5 separate regions of the Homo sapiens genome follow, and regions 1, 2, 3 and 4 are each reported to be linked to region 5. The links are microRNA targets in miRTarBase. Many come from high-throughput screens and were not tested one by one. Region 5 holds a microRNA gene; each other region holds the end of a gene's coding sequence. Distances are from middle to middle.
Evidence for each region. Region 5 holds the annotated microRNA hsa-miR-670-3p (UUUCCUCAUAUUCAUUCAGGA, at 1,589-1,609, opposite strand). A microRNA usually pairs through its seed, bases 2 to 8, with sites in the 3' UTR of a target mRNA and lowers its output. Matches are read on the target gene's strand: a 7mer-m8 pairs with bases 2 to 8, a 7mer-A1 pairs with bases 2 to 7 and ends in A, and an 8mer does both.

Region 1 (3,000 bases), not on the chromosome of region 5:
TCTAAGATCATTCTGGTCATTGTCATGAACATTCCAGACAGTCATAAGAAGGAGCAGGGAGGGGTTTTGTGAGAGTGTTACTAGCCAGCTTTAGAAGTGGTACATAGGTCATTTCTGCTCACAGGCTGTTTAGAGAACTTAGCCGCAGGATTATACCTGTGGGAAGGAGAGAAGGGGAGCACAGACTTTGGTGAAGAGCTGGTTGTTCATGGCAAAAACTAAGTAGTTTGTTCCTCTTTTTCTTTCCAGCTATGAAATGAAGGGCAAATCAGATACATCCAGCAATCATGCTGTGCTGAAGCTAGCCAAAGGGGATGAGGTTTGGCTGCGAATGGGCAATGGCGCTCTCCATGGGGACCACCAACGCTTCTCCACCTTTGCAGGATTCCTGCTCTTTGAAACTAAGTAAATATATGACTAGAATAGCTCCACTTTGGGGAAGACTTGTAGCTGAGCTGATTTGTTACGATCTGAGGAACATTAAAGTTGAGGGTTTTACATTGCTGTATTCAAAAAATTATTGGTTGCAATGTTGTTCACGCTACAGGTACACCAATAATGTTGGACAATTCAGGGGCTCAGAAGAATCAACCACAAAATAGTCTTCTCAGATGACCTTGACTAATATACTCAGCATCTTTATCACTCTTTCCTTGGCACCTAAAAGATAATTCTCCTCTGACGCAGGTTGGAAATATTTTTTTCTATCACAGAAGTCATTTGCAAAGAATTTTGACTACTCTGCTTTTAATTTAATACCAGTTTTCAGGAACCCCTGAAGTTTTAAGTTCATTATTCTTTATAACATTTGAGAGAATCGGATGTAGTGATATGACAGGGCTGGGGCAAGAACAGGGGCACTAGCTGCCTTATTAGCTAATTTAGTGCCCTCCGTGTTCAGCTTAGCCTTTGACCCTTTCCTTTTGATCCACAAAATACATTAAAACTCTGAATTCACATACAATGCTATTTTAAAGTCAATAGATTTTAGCTATAAAGTGCTTGACCAGTAATGTGGTTGTAATTTTGTGTATGTTCCCCCACATCGCCCCCAACTTCGGATGTGGGGTCAGGAGGTTGAGGTTCACTATTAACAAATGTCATAAATATCTCATAGAGGTACAGTGCCAATAGATATTCAAATGTTGCATGTTGACCAGAGGGATTTTATATCTGAAGAACATACACTATTAATAAATACCTTAGAGAAAGATTTTGACCTGGCTTTAGATAAAACTGTGGCAAGAAAAATGTAATGAGCAATATATGGAAATAAACACACCTTTGTTAAAGATACTTTCTAAACTTGTGTTTAATAAACTTTAATAGTCATAGAATTGTAAATCACTATGGTTAACAGAAAGTGAAAATATTTTCATGCAGATGATGTGAACAGCCATGTGAATAGGTGACTTGGGCACACAGCAGGGTCATATGACTTCAGAAAACTTCGCTTTTCAGTTATTCCATTGTTATAATGTCAACCCTTTAAGACATTGATGTTTAGAGGGCTCACAAATAAAATCTGAATACCTGTAAGGAAAGAGGTTTTTTATCACATACCTTAAGTCTTTGTAATGTTCATGCTTAAATTCTAAGTTTTCACCTTAGTGACACACAAGGTTTGGTTGTAGGCAACAAGTCCCAGGTGTGTGGGAAATTGATTCACAACAGAGATGGGAAAAGGTGCAGATAATTTCCAATGCCTTCACAATTTACCCATGACCAGAAATATACTTGGAAGACTGATTTCACAAGTGTCCCAAAACTGAGATGCTAAAAAGGAAACAGTAGGTAGGTGTCATAGGAAATTTACATGTACCATCTAATAAACAAACTTGCAAATTCTAAATCTTTTTTTTTTTTGAGACAGTTTCACGCTGCTGCCCAGGCTGGAGTGCAGTGGCATGATCTCAGCTCACCGCAGCCTCCGCCTCCTGGGTTCAAGTGACTCTCCTACCTCAGCCTCCTGAGTAGCTGGGACTACAGGCGCCCACCACCAGGACCAGCTAATTTTTAATGTTTCTAATAGAGATGGGGTTTCACCATGTTGACCAGGCCGGTCTGGAACTCCTGACCTCAGGTGATCTGCCTGCCTCGGTCTTCCAAAGTGCTGGGATTACAGGCGTGAGCCCCCGCACCCAGCCGCAAATTCTAAATCTTAAAACAACTCTGCAAACGAAGCACTTGAGTTTCTGCTTGCTTCAGGGATGTAATATGGTGTAGAACTGTTTCACATAATGATCAGCCTTGGTAATTTTCCAGTGTAGAAAACATTATATTTGACCCTTGGACAACAAAGAGATTATATTGAAGGAATTTTATTGATTGTATCATGAATAAAAGCTGAAGTCAAAATTAAAATGTAAAAAAATAATTCAGAGGATGGAATATGCAAATGTAAACTCCAAATGATGTGGCTGGAATTCATAAACATTTACTTTATGCAAGATACTGTGCTATTCCAGGCACTCCTATGGCATTTAAAGTACAATTCTTACCTTCCCTAATTTTTCAACCTAGTAGAGGACAATAGGCTAAAGGGAATAAGTACATGGATAACAAAACATAAAGTAGAATGTTTTTACAGCCATAGAAGGCAAAGGGCTAGGAATTCACAGGAGAGAGAAACAGTATCTAGCTGAGAGCATAAGAAAAGCTTGTGGAAAAGATAATATCTGATGGCCAGAGACAATTTCTTGCTTTGGTATGTTTGAAGTGTTATATTTAAATATATATATTTTTATTTAAAAAACTCACTATAGAAAATTTATAAAATTCCCCAAAATATTTAGTATAAAATTAATCATCCCATCAAATATTAAATAATATTACTATTTTAAAGTGTTTATTTCAGTCTTTTCCTGCATGTATTTATGGCTTTTATTTTTAAATATAGTAATAAAATAATTTGAAATTAGCTTTTTATATATTTTTGTATCTTGCTCTAATGGGTTGGACTAAACATATTAAGAACACTCTCAAATGCTACTAAGGACA
Region 2 (3,000 bases), not on the chromosome of region 5:
GTAGCTTGATGGGAATAGCATTCAGTCTATAAATTACTTCAGGCGGTATGGCCATTTTCACAATATTGATTCTTCCTATCCATGAGCATGGCTTTATTTTGCATTTGTTTGTGTCCTCTCTTATTTCCTTGAGCAGTGGTTTGTAGTTCTCCTTAAAGAGGTCCTTCACGTCTCTTGTAAGTTATATTCCTGGGTATTTTATTCTCTTTGTAGCAATTGTGAATGGGAGTTCACTTATTATTTGGCTCTTTGCTTGTCTGTTATTGGTGTATAGGAGTGCTTTGTGATTTTTGCACACTGATTTTGTATCCTGAGACTTTGCTGAAGTTGCTTATCAGCTTAAGGAGATTTTAAGCTGAGACTATGGGGTTTTCTAAATATACAATCATGTCATCTGCAAACAGAGACAATTTGACATCCTCTCTTCCTGTTTGAATACCCTTTATTTCTTTCTCTTGCCTGATTGTCCCGGCCAGAACTTCCAATACTATGTTGAATATGAGTGGTGAAAGAGGGCATTCTACCCTTTTTTGTCTGGGGAAAAATTGTCATCCTTGGGGGGAAAAAAAAGCAGTAGCATCTTTGAGCTTAATTGTAATACCATAGTGCCATCTGGTGACCATATGGAATGACTGCATTATCCACATGGGATATTTCATGTCTAACAAAAATCTACAACATGTAAATCTCTAGTGTGTTCTGGGTTAGTGTTATAGGGACAGACAGTGAGGGCTGTACTTGAGAACTGTTCTCCTGAGCTACTCCTTTGGAGATCCCTCCCCTGGTTAGGCACTTTTTCATGTCAGAAAGAAAAATAAGAATTTTCCCCTTTGCCTACCCTAAGATGGTAGATGGCAGGTTGTATAAGCAAATGAGTGAAGTCTTCACACATCCCTTCGGCTCTAAGGAAGATGCTGGGAAAGGGGAGTTGGTATTTTGTCTTGTTGAGAGATCTTCCCTTGAAAGATTTGGCTACTGTACCTATGGCCTCGAGTCCAATCCCAAATAGGAGTTTCAAACTCAAGTAACCCCGAATAGCACCTAGCTGTCCCTAAATATGAAATAAAGGCCCCTCTTCATTCTTCCAACTACCCCAGAATGCAAAGAACTGTACCATCAGAGTGTAGCCAGGGCTTTTGAATCCATCACACTTTTACCTGAGCTCAGATTTCATGAAGTACCTCAACCCCCACCTCCAGTGGCTTTGAAACAAGTCTTAACAGATGGTCACTCTTGCCATCCATCCCATGCCATCAATTCAAGTCAAGACTGATCAATGTACTGAATATGAACTTTATTGTGATTTGGTTTATGTAAGGCAGTGTAGTGAAGGCACTGCAGAAGTTAAACAGACTGGAAAACATGGTAAAAAATGAGCGAGCTAAAAATGAATGCTTGCTGGTCTAGGTAGGCTAAGTACTACAACTATGTTTCTTTTTCATCATTGCAGAAGCGTTGAAATATTGTTGAAGGTGGGGGTTTGGGGTGGAATTAGGGAAGGCTTCATGGAGGAGGTGGCATTTATACTGGGCCTTGAAGGAGGGGCAGAAAGTTGATAGGTTAAGATGGAGGGAAGTACATTTCATAATGACTGACTCTAGAGAAAATTCTGTAGAAGTACTGAAAAATGAGAGGGCAAACAAACACCCCCAGCGAGTGAAGCATCCCAACTGAGAGAAAAGTCTGAGGAGTCTGGGCTGGGACCAAAGTCTCAAGTCCCCAGATGGGGTCTTCAGTACAAATGATATTAGGAGGCACAGGACAATGGGCTTGTTTGTAAACCTAGCAGCAGCGAGAGGTTTCACATTGCAGTCAGGGGCCCCAAACTGGCTGTAATATGTCTGGATGAATTCTCTCATCTTTTAGGTGTGTATGGTACTTACTTATCTTTCCTCTTGCCCACTGACTGCCTGAATGGTAGTTCGTGCGCGCCCATGTGCGCGTGTGTGAGTGTAGGTGTGTGTGGATGGGTGGGGGACCGAGGCTTTGTCTCCCACTGCAGCTTCTTCCACTTTTCCGTCTTGTGGCACACAGCAGGCTTCCATTGAGCTGAAGCTCAGGCCCCTCTCACTGTCTAGGACTCATTGAACTCCAGCTCTTGATTAAGCACCAGGAAGCTTTCTCAACATGAAGGTAAAATTTACTGTCGGGGGTGACTTGGGTTAGGGCAGGACTACACTTTCCGGAGGTGATGATGGTGGTGAGTGGTGGTGGTGGTGGTGGTCGTGGTTGGTGGTGGTGGCAGTGGTGTCTGTAAGGGTTGGGGACTTAAAGCCGGCTCTGGCTGCTGGGTGAAATGCTGCTGGGAAGTCTATAGTGTTCAGTCAGGAGCTAGGATGTCAGGCTAGACCAGCTTGGCCTTGATCAGCCCTCCTCCTTCCTCAACATGCCCTACAGGGGAGATATATCAAACAACTGAAAACATCAAAGACATCTGTAGGGTGTCCAGCCTCTTGTTATTGTCCTACTTGAATCTCACCCCCGGAAGCCCCAGAGATCCTTTCTTGGCAAATGTGTATGATGTCTAGATAGGACTGTCGCCTCCCCATGTCCAGCTGCTGGAGGTATATAGGTTATGTAGCTACAGATGCTACTTGGATTGGGAGGTATGGGGAATTTATCAGAAGAGAGGAAGAGTTAATTATTGTGAATCTCATTCTTTCTAAAGATTGTGAATCTTAACTAAGACCTGGCACCTGACGGAAAATAAAAGGGTGGCACGCTTTGTCAGGATTCTCTGGGATTGCAGATTTAGAGCTCAGTGAGATCATCGCTGGAAATAACCTTGAAGCTGATGTGGCCTTGCTTGACTTTGGCAGTTGGACCACCCTTCTTACGCAGGTACAGAGACTTCAGATCACGGCAGTCGCTGGGGTCAGCATCCAGAGTAACCTGCCCCAAGAACTGATCACAGAATTTTCGGCTGTTCCAGACCTGGAAAGACAAACGAAGGGAGTGAAGATGAGCAGCCCTCAGTGAGATTAGCCTTTGCCCAGTGAC
Region 3 (3,000 bases), 52 Mb from region 5:
CTACTCTGTTGCCTCCAGAGGCATCTGAGGGAAGTAGTAGCTTTTTGGGAAAACTCATGGGCTTCATTGCTACCCCATTCATCAAGCTTTTTCAATTAATTTATTACCTTGTGGTAGCAATCCTGAAGAACATTGTCTATTTCCTGTGGTGTGTTACCAAGCAGGTGATTAATGGCATAGAAAGTTGCCTTTACCGCCTGGGCTCAGCCACCATCTCATACTTCATGGCCATTGGGGAAGAGTTGGTGAGCATTCCCTGGAAGGTGCTCAAGGTCGTGGCCAAAGTCATCAGGGCTCTCCTCCGGATCCTTTGTTGTCTGCTGAAGGCCATTTGCCGAGTTCTGAGCATCCCTGTCCGTGTCCTTGTGGATGTGGCCACTTTCCCTGTGTACACCATGGGCGCTATTCCAATTGTTTGCAAGGACATTGCACTGGGCCTTGGTGGCACTGTCTCACTGCTCTTTGACACTGCTTTTGGTACCCTGGGTGGCCTATTTCAGGTGGTTTTTAGTGTCTGCAAGCGGATTGGCTACAAGGTTACTTTTGACAATTCTGGGGAGTTATAAACTCAAAAAACTAATAGTATCCAGTCACAGTGAATTTGAAAGCTGGAATAGTTTGTCTTTACAATGGGTTTCTGTTCACTGTCAGTTATCATTATATTTTGGCCTTTGGTGGGGATGTCTGCTTGTTTTTGCAAAAGAAGATGGCAGAATTTAGACTTGACAGAGGAGAAATGCTCAGGGTGAGATTAGGTGTAGTAATCTGCTGTTTACCTCCAGTTATATGTGCAAACTCCCAAGCCACTAATAACTTCAGTTATGCACTCTAACACAGACGACCACCTGAAATGCACTGGTATTTATTTCTGATAATTAAAAATTACAGGGGAGGGAAGAACTAGAAAAAGAACAACTTTAGACCAAAGGTGTCTGAGAAAAGGAGAAAGGGAGCTTGTTCTTCCCATTGCTCTTTGTGATTTAAGGCAAAACAGATTAAAAAAAAAATCTGCAGCCAATTTCTTGGCATTTGCTTCTCTTTCTCCTCAACTCGACTGACCTTGGTGGAATGCAGATAATGCCTCTTTGTTGAAATAACTTTGTGGGAATGTACAATTTTCTATATCTCTTAGCTTTCCGTGGTTCTCAAGGATATGTACAGTTTTCATTTTCCTCCAAAGTTGAATTTTGCTACATTTTTCTTTTAGGTAATGATAAGCATTTTTTAAAAAATCATTTTTAGGTAATGGTAAGCATTTTATGCCAAATGTGGCATAACAGAGTTTGAATTGAAGGGCAAAGTTTTCTTTTCTTTTTTTTTTGGGCCCCTTGAATGGTATAATACAGTCCTCTCCGGTGGAAAGAAGAGAAGAGAAGGTGGACAGCCCTGCTCTTAGTAGGTGCTGCAGATCCAAGGACATCTTTTGTCCAGCTTGGATTAACTTGACGTGTATCCCTGCCTGACAAGGTTGAACTGAAAGATCTATATGTTAAGCTAACATGAAAATTCATATTCTGCAACATAGTAGATTTTTCTAATGCATGAAATAAGTACCCAGCACAGTAAAAATACTCTGACTTATGTCCCTAAATGGTTGTTTTGATACAACTATATAGAAAAGAGCCACAAAATAAAGATAAAAGTTATTGTGGCCATCTCTGAAAAAAATATATAAAATATTTAAGAATAATTATATCTTAGGAAATTATTTTTACAGTGTGTTTGAGGCTACAAACATAACTCCCCCATTAATACAAATTAAATGTGAGAGCTCATTCTCAAAATTTTTTTGATCAAGCACTTGTCATTTTAAATCTTGCACTAAAAAATGGTAACAAGAGGGACCAAACTTTGCTTCCCACAATTGGGATGGAATCACCTGGATTTTTCTGAATGTTTTAAAGAATTGCTGAGAGGTAGAAACAGCCAAGTATGAAATACTGATCTTGGGGCTACCGCCCAGGATCAATCAGAAAGTTATATGCAAAAATTCGGGGTCCCAACAAGGAGAGAACAATATGTCAACCATTTGCATGGGGTCGATGGATGAGAAACATGAGCGTAGCAAGAGTTACATTTTGCAGAAAAATAGCGGAGGCACACCCAGAGTAGAACAGCAGCCAGCAAGCTGCCATCCTGATCAATTTGTGATGCAAGGTTAGGGAGTATGAGCACCGCATGGGTCCATGCTAGGGAGATGTGCACCAGGCTTAGCTAAGAAACTTAAAGCAGTATTTTACCAACTCTTGTCTTAGGGAGCATAAAGTTTGGATGTCCCTTTATTTCAGCAGTGTGAAGGTAAATGGAAGGGTGAGGGTTTGACTTGGTACTGATTGGTCAAGAATCCTGCTGGATAAAGAAAAGGAATTTTAGAAGTGACCAGAGGGACAGTCCAGCCAAACTATTATTTGATAAGGAACCCAAGGCCCTGGGAGGCAACAGGCTAGCCCTTAGTTTCATGGCTAGCTGAGAGCAGATTAGGAGCCAACGTTGTTTGCACATGTCCCATCACACCTGAGATGTCAGACATGGGAAGTTCGTGCTATTATTCAGTTGCCTCTCTGGACCATGGCAAGATTTCCTCATTCATCAAACAGACTCCAGGCCCTGACAAAGCAGTTGGATTTGGCATGTGTGATGAAAACAATTAGCCATCCATGTACAACATTATGCTTACTGCATCCCATGGAAACTTAATTCCCTCCTAGCACATATTTGCATACTGAAAGGTCCGAAAAGGGCATCCACGGCAGCTTGAGCCCCTTAGCACCATGTAAGGAGCACAGCATCCAAACGGCTTCTTGAGAACCATTGGGGAATGTCTTTCTTTTTCACATCCAATTGTTTAGTGTCTATTTATTCTTGGGTGGCCAGTTTTGAAACCTAAAAAGGGACAATAAAGCAAAAAGTATCAGTAAGGATAGGTGGCTGAGACCCACTGCCCTGAGCTACTAGTGTGGCTGTGCCTGTGGGTCTCTAGAACCATCTGCATTGGACGTG
Region 4 (3,000 bases), not on the chromosome of region 5:
TGTCCATCAGCTCATAGCTGTGTCTCCGCCACAGGTTCCCATTAAGGATGTCGAGGCGGGGAATGGTGAGGAAGAGTCGGGCATGGGTGCTGGAGAAGAAGGAGCGGCACAGGCGCCAGGGCAGGTGAGTGCCAGCCTGGGAGCTGGCAGGGTGGGTGGGGGGTGGATGACTATTGCCATGAAGAGCTTCCCTTTATTTGAAGGGTCCAGGGCTGCTTTGATCTTTTTTTTCTGAGACTGTCCTATTCCTTTTCTGCACAGGGAAGTCAGACCTGACACCCAGTACACCGGCCGCAAGCGCAAGCCCCGCTTCTAAGTCACCACGCGGTTCTGGAAAGGCACTTGCCTCTGCACTTTTCTATATTGTTCAGCTGACAAAGTAGTATTTTAGAAAAGTTCTAAAGTTATAAAAATGTTTTCTGCAGTAAAAAAAAAGTTCTCTGGGCCGGGCGTGGTGGCTCACACCTGTAATCCCAGCACCTTGGGAGGCTGAGGTGGGAGGATCATTTGAGGCCAGGAGTTTGAGACCTGCCTGGGCAACATAATGAAACTTCCTTTCCAGGGAGGAAAAAAAAAAAAAAAAAAAGCTCTGAGAGCATCTTATTTTGTTTAAAGGCAAGAAATAAAATTTCCTTTTGTGGAGCTCTGGCATCTCCCAGCTCTGTGATTCTCACCAAACTCCAGTTCCTCCTGGTGGGCTACTGCTCGACTCCCCAGGCAGGAATCAGATTTAAAACACTTAGATGAAAGCATTCTTTCCATTTGCAAGGAACACAGAGTCCTTTAATTTAGGGCTTATATATAACTGTATCATAATCACACCAAGCAAAGTTGGGAAGAGGGCCCACATGAAATGTGTTCGTGGTGCCTGCTGGCCAGTCCGTTTTCCCTTCCTGTGAAGGCCTTGCCAGTCCAGCGGCCCCAGCTTGAACTGTGGCACTGAGCTGCACGGTCAGCTGCCTACCAGCCCAGTGCTTGGATGTCTTGGGCTGATCTCTTGTCCCGTCACTAGTGGTTGGAAAGGGAAGGTCCTGCTCTGGGGTAGTGTGGGACTGTCCAGCTGGCTGTGATAGGAGAGGAGGTGTAATGGTTGCTTGAGCCTTTTGGTCCATGTGGGAAGAGGGGCAAGATCCTGGGCATTGCAGTACAGAGCTGGATTAGGTGTTCAGCAGCTTAAGACATTAGGGAATGGGTGCCGGGGCCCGAGGGGCTGGGTGTCTGGGAGTGGGGTGAGGCTTGGGGCCTGAGGATCTAAGCCCTGCAGTGGGGTTTCCTGCAGGTGTCAGATTCCAGGCCTTGAGAGTGGCCTCTGGGCCTGTTCTCAGGGAATAAGGCCTGGATGTTTTCCACTGCACGGCCAGAGACAGGTCTGAGGAAGTTGAAGGCCCAGGGTGGGGTTGAGGCTGAGTTGGGATCCTCGCCTCTGAGCCCTTCCTCTTAGTGCCACATTCATTCATCCTCAGGTTCTAAGACTGTGACACTGCAGATGGCAAGAAGTCTAGAGCAGCCAGGCCAGGCACAACCTGTGGTCCCAGCTCTGTGGGAGGCTGAGGTGGGAGGCCAGCTTGGGCAATAGTGAGAACCCTCCTAAGGTTTTCCCCCAGGAGACCTGGGGAAGAAATCTACAACAGAGGCCTGGTACAGATACAAATGTTTATTCTACATAAAAATTTCACAAAATGGGCAGCTGGTTGTACCAAGACCTTTGGTGAAGGGGTTGGGGGGAATCGCTGTTCAAGAAGGCAACACGGACAGTGGTCACAGTCACTGGGCAGGAGTAAAGCCGAGGGAGGGTGGGGCACACGGACACGGCCCCATCCCCTGCTGCATGCACTCGCATGCATCTCCCTGCCTGTCCACAAGGGAGAGGGTCCTGGGGCGGGGGCACATTTCCCATGAGAAGCCCCAAGGTGGTGAGGAGGAGGAGGTAGCCCTCCCCGGCTGGCTGCCGAATACTGCATCTGGGACACGTGACACCCACGTGGCACATCGATGGGAGGATGGCAAGGGCAGGATGAGACTGCAGGCCTGAAATGACATCTGACTTCCCAGAGCGCAAGACAACAGGAGCCACCATCCCAAACATGCAACGCTGGCTTGAGGGACTGACTGCAGCCTGCTTTGCCTCCCTAGCTGCTGGGGTGGCTGGAAATAGGGCACCAGCCAGCCCCTTCCAGAGGGACACCTGGGGTCAGACCTAGCCCAAGGGGTTGCTCCTGGGGCCGGAGGAATGTGGGAAGGGAAGCTGAGGCCCAGGACCCGATGGACTTTGCCCCTAGGCAGGGGAGGGAGCCTGGAGCCATGGCAGCCTGAGCCTCCCTGGCAGTGATCAGCGACTGAGACTCAGAGCTGGGCTGTCCCTCAGGGCCACCTCTCCCCTAACCTGAAAAGCAGCACCATGTGGCCAGCTGGTCCCCACCCCTCAGGGCTCTGCTTGTGGGGACAGCTGGAGAGGACAGGGCAGGTCAGCTGGAGGCGAGGTTAGGGTCCCCAGGGAAGAGCAGAACCTGGGCCCACCGAGTTACTGAAGGCAAGGAAGGGTGGCCTGTGTCACCCTGGCGGCCCTGCCTGGGTCTGCTCCTCGCTGTGCACACTGCATCACGCCCCGCTGGCTGCCTCCCTCTGCCTCTTCCCGTACAGACGCACACTCACAGAGATCATGCACACGACACGGGGCGGGGACGGAGGGCCCATGGCAGAGAAGGGAGCATGGGGGCCGGGAGGGAGGGTGCTCTGAGCCAGAGGCGGGGGTTGGGAGGGCAGCCCAGCCAGGTGGCAGCAGCCAGGGCCTCCTTGGAGTGGCCCACCTGGAGTGGAGTGGCAGTTTGGGTGGCTTCTAGGCGAAGATGCCCCCAACAGTGGAGGCGATGACGATGCCCAGGATCACACAGCAGATGATGATCATGATTTTCTTCTGCATGGGAAGCGGGCAGGAGAGGCCTCAGACAGTGTTGGCGGCAGGTGGGGTGGGACTATGGCAAAGGCTGAGGACTGGACAGT
Region 5 (3,252 bases):
TCTGAGAACTTGTCATCCTGGGCCAGGAGACCCCTGGGCAGACCTCAGAGCAGTTGTGAGACAAACAAGAAGCAGCACTAAATAATTAGCACAATTATTCATGAATCAAACCAAATATATTTTATTACTTTCAGGTGGTGAAACCTAAGTACAGATCAGTCAGGGTATCTCCTGGATGGGACCAAGCTTGAAAGTGGTGGGTGGGGATTGGAACCCATGCTTCATCTGCAAGGCTTGGGCTCTAAGCCACGGCTTCAGTGAAGAGATCAGCAGATGAATTCTCCCCTCAAAGCTGTGATAGCGTCACCAGGAAGTGGTGGATTTTCACAGAGTGGGACTTGCTTAGAGGAGAAGAAAGTCCCAATGGGTCAAAAATGGAGGCCGTTCAAGTTTTTTTTTGCTGCGGATTCAATTATTCGCTTGACGAAGGAAGATGAGTAATAGGGTTCTCAGCCTGAAGTCTAGGTTACTTCTTACTTCCTCCCACCTGGATTGACTTCAGGAGCGTGCAACTTGTGTAGTTGCAGGGCCCTTGGCTCAGAAGAGCTCCATGGTTGGTTTAAGATTCTACTGTTATTGTCTTGAAATTCTTAAAAATTTTGTCTTTGAACCCGTGTTTTGTAAGTGAAGTCTATGGGATAATAGAGAATGTGTGTGCCCATCCATCGTTCCTGTCCCACAATGTTGGCAGTAGCCCATGCGTACAGAATTCCAGTGGGAGCTCAGTGAGACTCGGGGCAAGTAGAATGGAAAGTAAGCCTATGACTACACAGACGGGGGACACAGACAGTGCCCAGAGGTCATGCTTTCTGTTTGAACCAGATGCTTCAAATGCAGAAGGAAGGCAATAGAGTTCTAAGAAACACTAATGCCTAAGGGACCCTAAAGTAGCATTTCTTACTTATGTTCCTTCCCTGTATTTGCCAAACACCTATGCTGAAAATGTTGACACAGAAGGAAAGGTGAAGATAGAGCAATCCATAGCTATTTCTCCTCAACAGCAAGCTGAAGGTGGAGAGTGCTGGTACAAAGCGCTTGTATCAAGAAGTGAAATAAAAACACTGGAGTTCATTTTGTCAGCATCTCCATTGTTCTGGTAAGAATGAAATACCTATGCATATGCGACATATGAAATGTGAATTGTGTAATTTCAGTGATTCTACAAATGAGTTAAACGCTCTTGTGTTTACATTTACAACTGGCATCACACAATATAAAGATGAACGGTAAAATTCATGCTAAAAATTTAAAATTTTTATTTTTATTTAGCACCACATGAAAAACAGCAAATAAAAAACCACCATGACGATTCTAGAGAGAGATTGTGGAAGAAAGACAAAGGCATTATATTTAGGCACTTTCTTCCTGCTTTTTGAACAAGGGGCCCTACGTGTTCATTTTGTGCCAGGTTCCATGAATTCTATAACCAGTTCTGCCCCTGCCCTTAGGTTTCTTTTGAGAAACAGGGCAAGCACCAGGGCTCATCCAAGGTGATGAAGATAAAAGTCGGACTTCATTCTTGCCATAAATGAGTAGACACCTGCTTGCTGTAATGCTCTCCAACGTCGCGTGAAGGGGCAACTGACACTCCTGAATGAATATGAGGAAACCCAAGGCAAATTCAGGTTCACCACATACACTCAGGGACATCAGGTCCACCCCTAAACTGGATGAAGAACGTCTCAGCTGGCATCTTCGGACTTGACAGAGAGGAAGAAGGTCTGTTTCCTTGTGTATGTGGCTCATGAGCTGACGTGGGCTCTCGTGGGTTCTCATGTGGAGAGAACCCTGGGTACCCACATGCATACTGTTGTGGTTTTTGCACATATATGTGCATGTACACTGCACATACATGTCTGCATGTGACAAGTGCTTGGGCACCTGGTAGAACCTGAGAGAGGTGGTCTTTCCATGGATCTCCGGGGAAGGCTGATGGACATGAAATACTTTTTAGGTGCTATTCTTCTGGAACTTGGTCCCTAGAAGACCACAGCTCAGAGTAAAGAGAGATACTGACAGTCTTGGAGGACTGTGGAGAGCAGATGGCTATAATTCCAGGACCAGATTTTTTTTTCTTGTAACCACTTCCCCCACAGCATTTATATCAAAGGGAGACAAATACTTGTTGACTTAAGCAATAAACAGAAACAATTTCCTTCTGAGAAGTGCAACACAAAGAAACCTGATGCTTTCCGGGCTGTGGAAGACTCTCCATCCCCCTTCTTGGAGCAGGACCTTCAGTGATATGGACAGTGGGTGTCAGGCCAGCTGACCTGGTTTTACTTCACACCGGCAGATCCAGGGATGCAGCCACCATCCACTCTGCTTTATTTAGTGAGACAGCACTTCATACCAACAGCAGGCTTAATCACAGTCTATACCAACATTTCACTTCCCATTTCTATGTCTGTACTCCTTGCCTTTTGGTTATTTGGGGTGGGGGGTGGCAATAGCATGCTGATTCTATCTTCCAAGCACCCTCCCCAAATCTCCTACTTCCCTGCTGAAAACGATTCCCTTCTCATGTTAATTTGATGACCCAGCCAGCTGCACCCCTCCGCCCCCGCACCCCCAGCGCAAAAGAAAAAGCCACTACCTTACTCCTTCAGAATTACATCCCCGCTCAGATGGTCTTCTCAACTACCAGCCCAGTCCAAAGAACCCTCGTCATATTTCCAGGCTCATCTGAACCAGACATTCAAGTAGTGCCCCCACACGGATATTTAAGGACCATGGAGGAGGGGGTATTCCCTCCTCCCCCTGTGTTCCACCTCCCAGAAGTGGCTGCTCTTCAGAGTGGAGGTGATTCAGCTTTCCTAGAAGATGATTTGCAGGGGGAAAAAAATGTACAGTACTACAGCTGAGAGTGCTGCCTGCTTCCCTCGATGAAAAAAAAAATCCTGCTCTCAGACACATGGAATTCCCATTGATGAGGTTTGGCCAACACCAGGCGCTGGATTTTCCCCGTTAAACATAAAGCTCTGGGTGAAAGACGCGGGGGAGGGAGAAGGGATAATGATATCTTTTCAACCTTTTCAGACCTCTGGGGGATTTGAACTCTGGCCCCCAAGGTCAAATGGCTGATGTTCAAAAGCCCCCTCTCTCCACCCCTCCACCTCTCTTCCCCAAGCTCCTTCCTAACAAAGAATGACTCTCTTTGCTACACACAATAAAGCCCTGGTGGATTTACCCAGATTAAAAAACCCCTTGAAGTCCCTGTCAAAACTAATCTTCTCAGGAGAAACACTTGTT

Region 1: the mRNA of C1QTNF3 is a reported target of hsa-miR-670-3p. Seed matches in the 3' UTR shown: 7mer-m8 at 472-478.
Region 2: miRTarBase lists CAPN6 as a target of hsa-miR-670-3p. Seed matches in the 3' UTR shown: 7mer-m8 at 2,378-2,384 and 7mer-A1 at 1,889-1,895.
Region 3: the mRNA of ENDOD1 is a reported target of hsa-miR-670-3p. The part of its 3' UTR that is shown has no 7-base or 8-base seed match.
Region 4: miRTarBase lists BUD23 as a target of hsa-miR-670-3p. Seed matches in the 3' UTR shown: 7mer-A1 at 564-570.

What each region holds. Positions count from the first base shown.
Region 1 is chr5:34,017,992-34,020,991 of GRCh38, reverse strand. C1QTNF3 (C1q and TNF related 3) reads left to right here. Exons shown (of 6, transcript NM_181435.6): 6 at 250-3,000. The coding sequence ends at 409. C1QTNF3-AMACR (C1QTNF3-AMACR readthrough (NMD candidate)) reads left to right here. Exons shown (of 9, transcript NR_037951.1): 6 at 250-405. Among named protein-coding and RNA genes, the nearest start is that of AMACR, 11 kb to the right of the region's middle.
Region 2 is chrX:111,243,826-111,246,825 of GRCh38, forward strand. CAPN6 (calpain 6) reads right to left here. Exons shown (of 13, transcript NM_014289.4): 13 at 1,274-2,934. The coding sequence ends at 2,752. Among named protein-coding and RNA genes, the nearest start is that of CAPN6, 25 kb to the right of the region's middle. RefSeq lists an enhancer at 2,415-3,000.
Region 3 is chr11:95,129,014-95,132,013 of GRCh38, forward strand. ENDOD1 (endonuclease domain containing 1) reads left to right here. Exons shown (of 2, transcript NM_015036.3): 2 at 1-3,000. The coding sequence ends at 566. Among named protein-coding and RNA genes, the nearest start is that of LNCRNA-IUR, 20 kb to the right of the region's middle.
Region 4 is chr7:73,697,571-73,700,570 of GRCh38, forward strand. It overlaps BUD23 (BUD23 rRNA methyltransferase and ribosome maturation factor), which reads left to right. Exons shown (of 12, transcript NM_017528.5): 11 at 35-124; 12 at 262-642. The coding sequence ends at 316. It overlaps STX1A (syntaxin 1A), which reads right to left. Exons shown (of 10, transcript NM_004603.4): 10 at 1,640-2,914. The coding sequence ends at 2,837. Among named protein-coding and RNA genes, the nearest start is that of MIR4284, 12 kb to the right of the region's middle. RefSeq lists an enhancer at 1,805-2,306.
Region 5 is chr11:43,558,071-43,561,322 of GRCh38, reverse strand. It overlaps MIR670 (microRNA 670), which reads right to left and starts at 1,667; the gene lies at 1,570-1,667. It also overlaps a transcript of HSD17B12 not described here.